Linked DNA regions of Homo sapiens. The protein of the gene in region 1 interacts with the protein of each later gene in a pairwise test. Each region holds a gene or a part of one and is shown on either strand. Other genes may lie near its edges.

The links.
Region 2: the proteins of MYB (region 1) and CLTC interact in binary tests that used the Homo sapiens proteins (3 or more experiments, as listed by UniProt).
Region 3: the proteins of MYB (region 1) and PPM1K interact in a two-hybrid assay, tested with the Homo sapiens proteins (one large-scale study listed by BioGRID and IntAct).

The regions. Positions count from the first base shown.
Region 1 is NC_000006.12:135,215,683-135,219,341, forward strand, and holds the end of MYB (transcriptional activator Myb), read left to right. Parts: intron 1-1,198; exon of another isoform or gene 1,199-2,181; coding exon 2,182-2,298; 3' UTR 2,299-3,490; downstream 3,491-3,659. UniProt on the Homo sapiens protein: Transcriptional activator; DNA-binding protein that specifically recognize the sequence 5'-YAAC[GT]G-3'. Plays an important role in the control of proliferation and differentiation of hematopoietic progenitor cells.
Region 2 is NC_000017.11:59,678,893-59,682,551, forward strand, and holds part of CLTC (clathrin heavy chain 1), read left to right. Parts: intron 1-504; coding exon 505-627; intron 628-2,019; coding exon 2,020-2,165; intron 2,166-2,402; coding exon 2,403-2,586; intron 2,587-2,754; coding exon 2,755-2,947; intron 2,948-3,378; coding exon 3,379-3,536; intron 3,537-3,659. UniProt on the Homo sapiens protein: Clathrin is the major protein of the polyhedral coat of coated pits and vesicles. Two different adapter protein complexes link the clathrin lattice either to the plasma membrane or to the trans-Golgi network.
Region 3 is NC_000004.12:88,263,992-88,267,650, reverse strand, and holds part of PPM1K (protein phosphatase Mn(2+)-dependent 1K), read left to right. Parts: intron 1-2,515; coding exon 2,516-2,650; intron 2,651-3,659. UniProt on the Homo sapiens protein: Serine/threonine-protein phosphatase component of macronutrients metabolism.

The DNA.
Region 1 (3,659 bases):
ATGTACAAATTGCAGCTTCCTGCCTCTTTCCTGCTATCTCGCTCCCTGGATGACATCCCTGCGTTTCCACCTCTCTCTCCCCTAATCTTAGCTGTTTTCACCCTTTCCCCACAGCATTGCCTTGACAGTTCCTCAGTGTCCCATCCCCTCTTCCCATGGACAACACCACAAACCTGCGCACACGGCCTGTTATTATTCCTCCTGTTTCACCTGTGTCCATTCTGTCTCATAAAGGACACTGTAGGCTCTGAACAGCTAAGGCCTTTCTTATTCTTTTGTCCCATGGAAAATAATCCCTCCAGATAGCAATACCAGGAATAGTGCCTTTTCTAACCCACTGGTTTCCTTTTGAGCTTACAGCCACCAAATCTTATATCTGTTTGTTTCTGTTCCCCTCTCTGCATTGACTGCTAGAGAGATCAGAGTCAAGCAGGAGGTTACATCTAGCTGGGGCACTGTGCTTTATGCTGGTGTTTCGTGTGCAAATCTCATACCATCTTCATGTTACAGTTGTTCCTTAGTGTCCATGGGGGATTTGTTTCAGAACCCGCAAGGACACCAAAGTCCAGGGATGCTCAAGTCCCTGATATAAAATAGCATTGTGTTTGCATATAATCTACACACATCTTACCATATAATTTTTTTTATTATTTGTATACATTCGTGGGGTACAAGTGTAATTTTGTTACATGGATGTATTGCATAGTGGTCAAAGTCGAGGCTGTGAGTGTATTTATCGTTGGAATAATGTACATTGTACCCGTTCATTCCTGTATACTTTAAGTCATCTCTAGATTACTTATAATAGCTAATACAATGTAAATGCTATGGAAATAGTTGTTATATTGTTAGGGGATAATGACAAGGAAAACACCTATACATGTTCAATACACAGCAATTATTTTTTTCTGAATATTTTTGATCTGCCATTGATTGAATCTATGGATGTGGAACCCACAGATATGGGACCCACAGATGCAGAGGGCCAACTGTGTTTATTTTTTCCAAATTTGTTTCCCTGTTATGACTCTTCTTTATACACATTTTTAAACTCTGTTGTCTTGTATTTCTTTTCTAATCATCTTACGTCCTTTTGGAAACCAAGTGGGGCATAAATAGTACATGTTTGCATTTGAGGCAACACAGAGGCATCGCAGGAGCTGGAGACAGCAAAGTTCAAAGCCAGTCCACCACTTACCTACAGAGTGGCCTTGGGCAAGTTACCTCCATTTTCTGTCTCCATTCTCGAGCCTGTCTAGAGAGAGAATGAACCTGCCTCCCGAGGTGATGGTGCTGTTTTAATGAAATAATGCATGTGAAATGTGAAGTGCCACTGTCCCTGGCATGGAGATGCTGTCCTTAGATATTAGGTCCATCTTGTATCTTCTAGTGTATCTTTAAAAATTAAACTATACTGGCTTCATGCCTGTAATCTCAGCACTTTGGGAGGCCAAGACCGGCAGATCACTTGAGTCCAGGAGTTCAAGACCAACCTGGGCAACATGGTGAAACCCTGTCTCTACAGAAAATACAAAAATTAGTGGGGCTTGGTGGCACGTGCCTGTAGTCCCAGCTGCTTGGGTAGCTGAGGTAGGAGGATCACTTGAGCCCAGGAGGCTGAGGCTACAGTGAGCTGTGATTGCACCAATACCGATCAGCCTGGTATGACAGAGCATGACTCTGTCTCAAAAAAAAAAGGAAAAAAATTAAACTATACTGATAAATATTTCTAAAGTAATTGATGAAAACATATATATGACACTTAGCAGGTGTTGATCAATTCCAGTGCGTGCATGAGCTGCTTTGCACTGTGGCTACAGCACTCAGCAGTTTGCTTAGTGAGTAGATGGCCATAGCTCACTTTAGGTATCTGGAGAATAATGCTCATTCCTGTCTCCAGCTTTGTAAAATTGCCTAATAGACGGAAGGCATTAAAATATGAAGATGGGATTATATCTTATGAAGCTGCTTGGAATGGGTTTTCCCTCTTAACAAATAATTTCTGATCATCCATATCCCTTAAGAACACCGGATTTCTGGGGGCCAGGGAGGTAAGATTCTATCTGACAAAGCCTTCCTGGTGTCAACCACTTGCCATCTGTTGGTCAGTGCTGGCCCTGCTGGGTCTATAGAATGAGCTTCTTTGTCTGACGCTCCTGTTGCCATCCCTTTCTCCATCAGCCTTGTAGCAGTACCTGGGAACCTGCATCCTGTGGAAAGATGGAGGAGCAGATGACATCTTCCAGTCAAGCTCGTAAATACGTGAATGCATTCTCAGCCCGGACGCTGGTCATGTGAGACATTTCCAGAAAAGCATTATGGTTTTCAGAACACTTCAAGTTGACTTGGGATATATCATTCCTCAACATGAAACTTTTCATGAATGGGAGAAGAACCTATTTTTGTTGTGGTACAACAGTTGAGAGCAGCACCAAGTGCATTTAGTTGAATGAAGTCTTCTTGGATTTCACCCAACTAAAAGGATTTTTAAAAATAAATAACAGTCTTACCTAAATTATTAGGTAATGAATTGTAGCCAGTTGTTAATATCTTAATGCAGATTTTTTTAAAAAAAACATAAAATGATTTATCTGTATTTTAAAGGATCCAACAGATCAGTATTTTTTCCTGTGATGGGTTTTTTGAAATTTGACACATTAAAAGGTACTCCAGTATTTCACTTTTCTCGATCACTAAACATATGCATATATTTTTAAAAATCAGTAAAAGCATTACTCTAAGTGTAGACTTAATACCATGTGACATTTAATCCAGATTGTAAATGCTCATTTATGGTTAATGACATTGAAGGTACATTTATTGTACCAAACCATTTTATGAGTTTTCTGTTAGCTTGCTTTAAAAATTATTACTGTAAGAAATAGTTTTATAAAAAATTATATTTTTATTCAGTAATTTAATTTTGTAAATGCCAAATGAAAAACGTTTTTTGCTGCTATGGTCTTAGCCTGTAGACATGCTGCTAGTATCAGAGGGGCAGTAGAGCTTGGACAGAAAGAAAAGAAACTTGGTGTTAGGTAATTGACTATGCACTAGTATTTCAGACTTTTTAATTTTATATATATATACATTTTTTTTCCTTCTGCAATACATTTGAAAACTTGTTTGGGAGACTCTGCATTTTTTATTGTGGTTTTTTTGTTATTGTTGGTTTATACAAGCATGCGTTGCACTTCTTTTTTGGGAGATGTGTGTTGTTGATGTTCTATGTTTTGTTTTGAGTGTAGCCTGACTGTTTTATAATTTGGGAGTTCTGCATTTGATCCGCATCCCCTGTGGTTTCTAAGTGTATGGTCTCAGAACTGTTGCATGGATCCTGTGTTTGCAACTGGGGAGACAGAAACTGTGGTTGATAGCCAGTCACTGCCTTAAGAACATTTGATGCAAGATGGCCAGCACTGAACTTTTGAGATATGACGGTGTACTTACTGCCTTGTAGCAAAATAAAGATGTGCCCTTATTTTACCTACTTTTGTTTTCTCTCTTATTTGTCACTATGGACAACAGTTACACTTTAAAGAAAATGGAGCAGACTCAAGGCACTTTCCTCTAATAATTGCACACCATATGCACTTCGTGTGAAGAAGCCAGGAATCATTACAATGGAAAAGAAAGAACAAGCAAACTGAGTTAAATAG
Region 2 (3,659 bases), on another chromosome or scaffold:
CCAGAAAGCTGAGGCAGGAGGATCACTTGAGCCCAGGAGGTCAATGTTGCAGTGAGCTATGATCGCAACACTGCACTCTCCAACCTTGACAACAGAGCAAGACTCCTACTTTCTGAAAATATTAGAAGTCAAGATCTGAGCTTTAGTGTATTTGCTTCTAAGATCTTTCAGTGGTCAGGGCTTAGTTACATTTATGTACATACATATGCTCATTTATGTACATACATGTGCATATACGCATGGAAAAATAAACACACAAGAACAGCTAGTAAAACACTGAAAACTGTAAAAGTGGACTAGTCCTACCAGATGTTGAACTGTGTATTACAAAGTCTATATAATTAAAACAGTATATTACTGGTACATGAATCAAAGTCCAAAACTAGATCCAATATCAGTAAGATTATCAATAAACATAGTTTAAAAGATAGGAAATACCCTCTAAAATGCTATAAAAAGTCCTTTACTTTTTACCTTGAAATTAATCTATCATATCTTCTTTAGGTTTGCAATGAGAATTCCCTCTTCAAAAGTCTTTCTCGCTACCTGGTACGTCGAAAGGATCCAGAATTGTGGGGCAGCGTGCTGCTGGAAAGCAATCCTTACAGGAGACCCCTAATTGACCAGGTAACATTGGCAAATGTGTTTATGGCTGTCAGTAAAAATTATACATTTTTAACTATGAATACAATCCTTTCCCTCATCATGTACTCAAATGGATCATATATAACTATGAGAGAAAGCAATACAAAGTAGAAGAAAATTAAAATTTATATATATTCAATTTACATTCATTTGTATATAATGAATGTAAATTGATTATATACATTATATACAAATGAATGTACATTTATATAAGTATAAATATGTATATAACATACATTAAGAAAAATAAGCCATGTGCGGTGGCTCACGCCTGTAATTCCAGCACTTTGGGAGGCCGAGGTGGGTGGATCACCTGAAGTCAGGAGTTCGAGACCAGCCTGGCCAACGTAGTAAAACCCCATCTCTACTAAAAATACAAAAATTAGCCAGGTGCATGTAATCCCAGCTACTCGGCAGGAAAATCGCTTGAACCCGGGAGGTGGAGGTTGCAGTAAGCCGAGATCACGCCATTGCACTCCAGCCTGGGTGATAAGAGCAAGACTGTCTCAAAAAAACAAAAAGAAAAAAGAAAAAGAAAATACATCCCAAAAGACCTGACTTAATTATATAAAACTCTCTTGGTTCATCATAGTTTAAAAGGAAAATAACAAACTAAACATTAAAGATTGCTATTATTAACACTTAAGTGGCTAAATTGATTGGAAACTTCAAGATAATAAGTCAGAAAAATATAAGGATAAGAGAAAATACAAAAGACCAAGTGCATCAGTGTTATATCTTACTAATAAGAAGTATAGAACTGCAAATGAGATGGGGTTTTATACCTAAATAAAATAGACAACATATTTTAAAAGTTCTAAAAATAGAAGAGTTGTTATAATGAGTCTTAAATTCTCCTGAGATAAGTATAAATAAAATATTTTGGAAACGAATAGGTTGAAGGCTATTAATATTTCATTCCTTTCCTAGGAAGCACTTCTAAGCAACATTCCCAAGTAGTTACAAAGCTTCCTAGGGGAAGGTTGTGGGGGTGGGGGCGATGGTTGGAAATCATTGCAGCATCTAGAAAACCAAGCAAATAGCCAAAACCAGACGAATTACCGATATTTTAATTCCACATCTGTGTAGCTGAATTTTGAATTATGTGTAGCCATTAAAGTGATAATGATGATTGCTAGCCTGGATAATGTTTTAATCAGGGAAAAGATAGAAATTATATAATTAGAGTAATTTTTCAACACAATTATACATATTGTATAGATTTGTGTAGAAAGACCTCTCTATGTAAATTTAAAGGTCTTTTTCCTACTTCATTCTTTTCTGCCTATTTCAAGTTTTCTAATGAGAGGCCAACTTACGCTTTTTTAAAACCAACTTGATTCTCAGTACTTATGTCCCATATATCCTCTGTAGGTTGTACAAACAGCTTTGTCTGAGACTCAGGACCCTGAAGAAGTGTCAGTAACTGTAAAGGCTTTCATGACTGCAGACCTTCCTAATGAACTCATTGAACTGCTGGAGAAAATTGTCCTTGATAACTCTGTATTCAGTGAACACAGGTATGCTTTCAGAGGGATCCATTGGCTATTTATAGTCAGTCTTTAATAAATTATGGCCCATCAGTTTTGGGAAGGAACAAAAAGATCAGAGAAAGTTGCCTGAATTCTCACTCTTCTAATATCCTCCCCCCTACCCTACCTCTTGAGACAAAAACCTCTCCGTTAGTCACAGTGGTTATTTTTTATGTCGGATAAACTTAAAATATTGCATTTAAAATATTCTTTTTTTTCTTAAAGGAATCTGCAAAACCTCCTTATCCTCACTGCAATTAAGGCTGACCGTACACGTGTTATGGAGTATATTAACCGCCTGGATAATTATGATGCCCCAGATATTGCCAATATCGCCATCAGCAATGAGCTGTTTGAAGAAGCATTTGCCATTTTCCGGAAATTTGATGTCAATACTTCAGCAGTTCAGGTAAATCTTCAGATTACCTAAGTTGAATTACTAAACACTGTGCTATGAGGGTGGGCCTAATTGGTTGCTACGGCAATAGAGCAGCAATAAAATACTAACAGCTTAAATGTAATTGCTTTGGGTAGGATTGATTTTACTCTAACCCTAATTTCAAACTTGGATACTTAGGTCTTAATTGAGCATATTGGAAACTTGGATCGGGCATATGAGTTTGCTGAACGTTGCAATGAACCTGCGGTCTGGAGTCAACTTGCAAAAGCCCAGTTGCAGAAAGGAATGGTGAAAGAAGCCATTGATTCTTATATCAAAGCAGATGATCCTTCCTCCTACATGGAAGTTGTTCAGGCTGCCAATACTAGTGGTATGACTTCTTACCTTATGTATTGAAACCTCATAAAATGATTAAGCTAAGCATTAAGATATCTGTCTATTCTGAATTTTAGAAGAGTTGGATACTGCATGGTTTCTTTTAGTGCTCCATCTTAGTCCAGATAAAAAGAGGCTGTATTTTGTGAATTTGTAAGTTCACAAAACTTACAAGTGGGGAAGATGAATCTTCTGTTTTTGAAGTCTCATAAAATCCTGATAGTGCTCTAATCTTAAAACTTTAAGGAAAAAGAATTCATCTATTCATTTGGTCCGTGATAATACAGAAGTGAAATATTGCACGGTTTACATTTGTCATTATCCATGTTTCCTTGAAAAGGAAATGAATGCAATTTTCATTTACTTGGGTGAAAGATAAACTAGGATGTTAGTGTTTGGATATATTTTTTCTTTTTCTATACTTAGGAAACTGGGAAGAACTGGTGAAGTACTTGCAGATGGCCCGTAAGAAGGCTCGAGAGTCCTATGTGGAGACAGAACTGATATTCGCACTGGCTAAAACAAACCGCCTTGCAGAGTTAGAAGAATTTATCAATGGACCAAATAATGCTCATATCCAACAAGTGGGTTTCCTTTTCAGATTTAAGAAAAACTAGTTGGGCTACTTGATTAGCTTGGTAGGATCAAAACATCATAACTGAAGAATTCCAAGGAAAAATCTATAGGAAAACAAATTCTTTCTCATT
Region 3 (3,659 bases), on another chromosome or scaffold:
CTCCAGTAAAGAAGGACTGATGTCCTGCCACCAGGCAAGTAGAGGCTGAGGAAGTGTACCCCTGCCTTTTCAGTGACTTGACTTTAGCAATCCTCAATATTTCGGGGAGAAATATTTTGGCTTCCCTCAGTTTGAAGTGTTAGGTTTTTGTTTCACCCCAGCTATGGAATTCTCCTGGTGAAATGGTCCTGCTGTTCTTCCTCACCTGCACCCAATCAGCCAGCATCACCTGCACTCAATCATGCAGCATCACCTGCACCCAGTCATCCAGCATCACCTGCACACAATCAGCATCACCTGCATCCAATCAGCCAGCATCACCTGCACCCAAGCAATCAGCATCACCTGCACCCAGTCAGCCAGCATCACCTGCACCCAATCAGCCAGCATCACCCACACCCAATCAGCCAGCATCATCTGCACCCAATCAGCCAGCATCACCTGCACCCAATCAATCAGCATCACTTGCACCCAATCAGCCAGCATCATCTGCACCCAATCAGCCAGCATCACCCGCACCCAATCAGCCAGCATCACCTGCACCCAATCAGCATCACCTGCATCCAATCAGCATCACCTGCACCCAATCAGCATCACCTGCATCCAGTCAGCCAGCATCACCTGCACCCAATCAACCAGCATCACCTGCACCCAATCAGCATCACCTGCATCCAATCAGCATCACCTGCACCCAATCAGCAGCACCTGCACCCAGTCAACCAGCACCACCTGCACCCAATCAGCATCACCTGCACACAGCCAGCATCACCTGCACCCAATCAGCCAACATCACCTGCACCCAATCAGCCAACATCGCCTGCACCCAGTCATCTAGCATCACCTGCACCCAGTCATCCAGCATCACCTGCACCCAATCGGCCAGCATCACTTGCATCCAGTCAGCCAGCATCACCTGCACCCAATCAGCATCACCTGCACCCAATCAGCTAACACCTGCACCCAATCAGCCAGCATCACCTGCACCCAATCAGCCAGCATCACCTGCACCCAATCAGCATCACCTGCACCCAATCAGCCAACATCACCTGCACCCAGTCAGCCAGCATCACCTGCACCCAATCAGCTAGCATCACCTGCACGCAGTCAATCAGCATCACCTGCACCCAATCAGCATCACCTGCACCCATTCAGCCAGCATCACCTGCACCCAATCAGCATCACCTGCACCCAATCAGCCAGCAACACCTGCACCCAGCCAGCATCACCTGCACCCAATCAATCAGCATCACCTGCACCCAATCAGCCAGCATCACCTCCACTTGGAAGCTGCCCCAACTTCCCTTTTCCACCAAGCCAAATAATCGCCCACCTCTACTTCTGTGGCATCCTTTGCATGCTACTAATCAGTGTCTTCATTGTCCTGAACTGCCCCCCAACACACACCCAGTCCATGAGCTGACAGTTCTCTAAAACTCCTGAGCCACTATAGTCTCTAGCACAGTATAGTGTAGGCTTCCAAAACTGGCAGCAAACACTTGTTAATTAATTGCATGAAGGGTTTCAAGTCTATAGATATCCCACATCGTGTGTTATAGATATCCCACTTCATTTTATCTAACAGATACTTAGGCAGAGTTTACTATGTGCTGGGCTCTGTTCAAAATAAGTACTACTATCCCCATTTTTCAAGGAAAATCTAAAGCATACAGAGGTCAATGCACCTCTGCTCACCCAGCCAGATAATAGAGGCAGGATTCAAATCCTAGAAGCCTGCTCTTAGAGACAGCACTCATAACCATTACATTGAGCTACCTCTCACCATTGGGCTATCTGGATTCTCCCTTTGTGATGTTAAATTATGGAATTAAATCAAGATATCTTGAAGGGTGTTTGCTAAATTGTTAGGCGTGATTACCTCTGGTGATGGGATTTCAGAGGATTGCAACTTCTTTACTCTTTACTTTTAACTACTATTTATATTTTACTAACTAAATATTAGCTTTATCCTTGCTGGTTAATTCTAAATGTTACTACTTTTGCCCAACAGGTAGGCTTTACATTTTCACTGTTTGCCTATGTATTGGTCTGTTCTCACACTGCTAATAAAGATATACTTGAGACTGGGTAATTTATAAAGGAAAGAGGTTTAATGGGCTCACAGTTCCACATGGCTGGAGAGGCCACACAATCATGGTGGAAGGTGAAAGAGGAGCAAAGTCATGTCTTATATGGTGGCAGGCAAGAGAGCATGTGCAGGGGAACTACCCTTTATAAAACCATCAGATCTTGTGAGACTTCACTATTATGAAAACGGCATGGGAAAGACCCACCGCCATGATTCAGTTACCTCCTACCAGGTCCCTCCCACAACACATGGGAATTATGGTAGCTATAATTCAATATGAGATTTGGGTGGGGACACAGCCAAACCATATCAGCTTACAAGCTGTTACACAGATGACCGCTTAGCAAAACAGGTAAAATCTTTGAATTAGCGAGATTGTGCTAAGGCAGAGTCTAGCTTATAATCATAGGCATTTGGTTCTGATTGCAGTTACATCATGCTGATGACAGCTTCCTGGTCCTCACCACAGATGGAATTAACTTCATGGTGAATAGTCAAGAGATTTGTGACTTTGTCAATCAGTGCCATGATCCCAACGAAGCAGCCCATGCGGTGACTGAACAGGTGACCCAGAGCTTCTGCCTGAAAAGTCCCAAGGAGAAGGAAGGAAAGGACAGTCCAGGCATTGTGTTTTAGCTTTTGAGTGTTGCAGTGAATTTTACACTTGATTCCATAATATTTCCAATTATAAAATTTTTATTTCCCCAAGTTAAAATTTTAATATGCCAAGGAAATGTGCTTTGTTTATTCTTTGGCTTTGTATATACCTTGAAATGATAGTAACAGCAATAGTAAATTATAATAGTAAACTAATATTCACTTGCTATGTGTCAGACAATATTCATATGTATTAGCTCATTACTGTATGTATTGTACAGTATGTACAGTTACATATATTGTAATCATCACAATAACCCTATTAGGTTGGAGCTATTATTGTCCTTTTTCACAGATGAGGAAAACAGGTACAGAGGCTACAGAGTTAATCACTGAAGGTCATAAAACTATTAAATTGCAGAACTGGACTTCAAACCCAGACAACTAGGTTCCCAAGTCCAACCACTTGACCGTTAAACTAGAGTGCTCCAAGCAAATATCCAATTTGAAGATATAGCATAGTCACCTTCTGGTTATTCAGAATGGGTGTGTGGAGAAGATAAACCAAAATACCAAAAGGCATAGGGATGAGGTTGTGTGTCAGTCAGAACTAAAATTAAAAGAAAGCTGGGTAATATCCAGTAAAGAAAACATAAACTATGCTTCGTATTATTTAAAATATTAGAGGCATGTTTTAATTCAACAGCTATTTTTGCATTTCCCAAATTAAGATAATAGACCTTACTTTAAAAGTATTATTTGCTTAGATGGGCAAACATGATTATAATATATGAATTATTCATTTGGTTACTGCCTTCACCCGTGCTAAACAGGGTATTCATGAAATTGAGGAAATAGGCCCAATTTCATGGATGAACACTTCTTTCCTAATTTCAGCTGCCTGTCTTGCAGATATTTGCATTCTAATTCACAAAGGTAATGAAATTTGTAATGAATGCATAGTGTTCCATTTTAT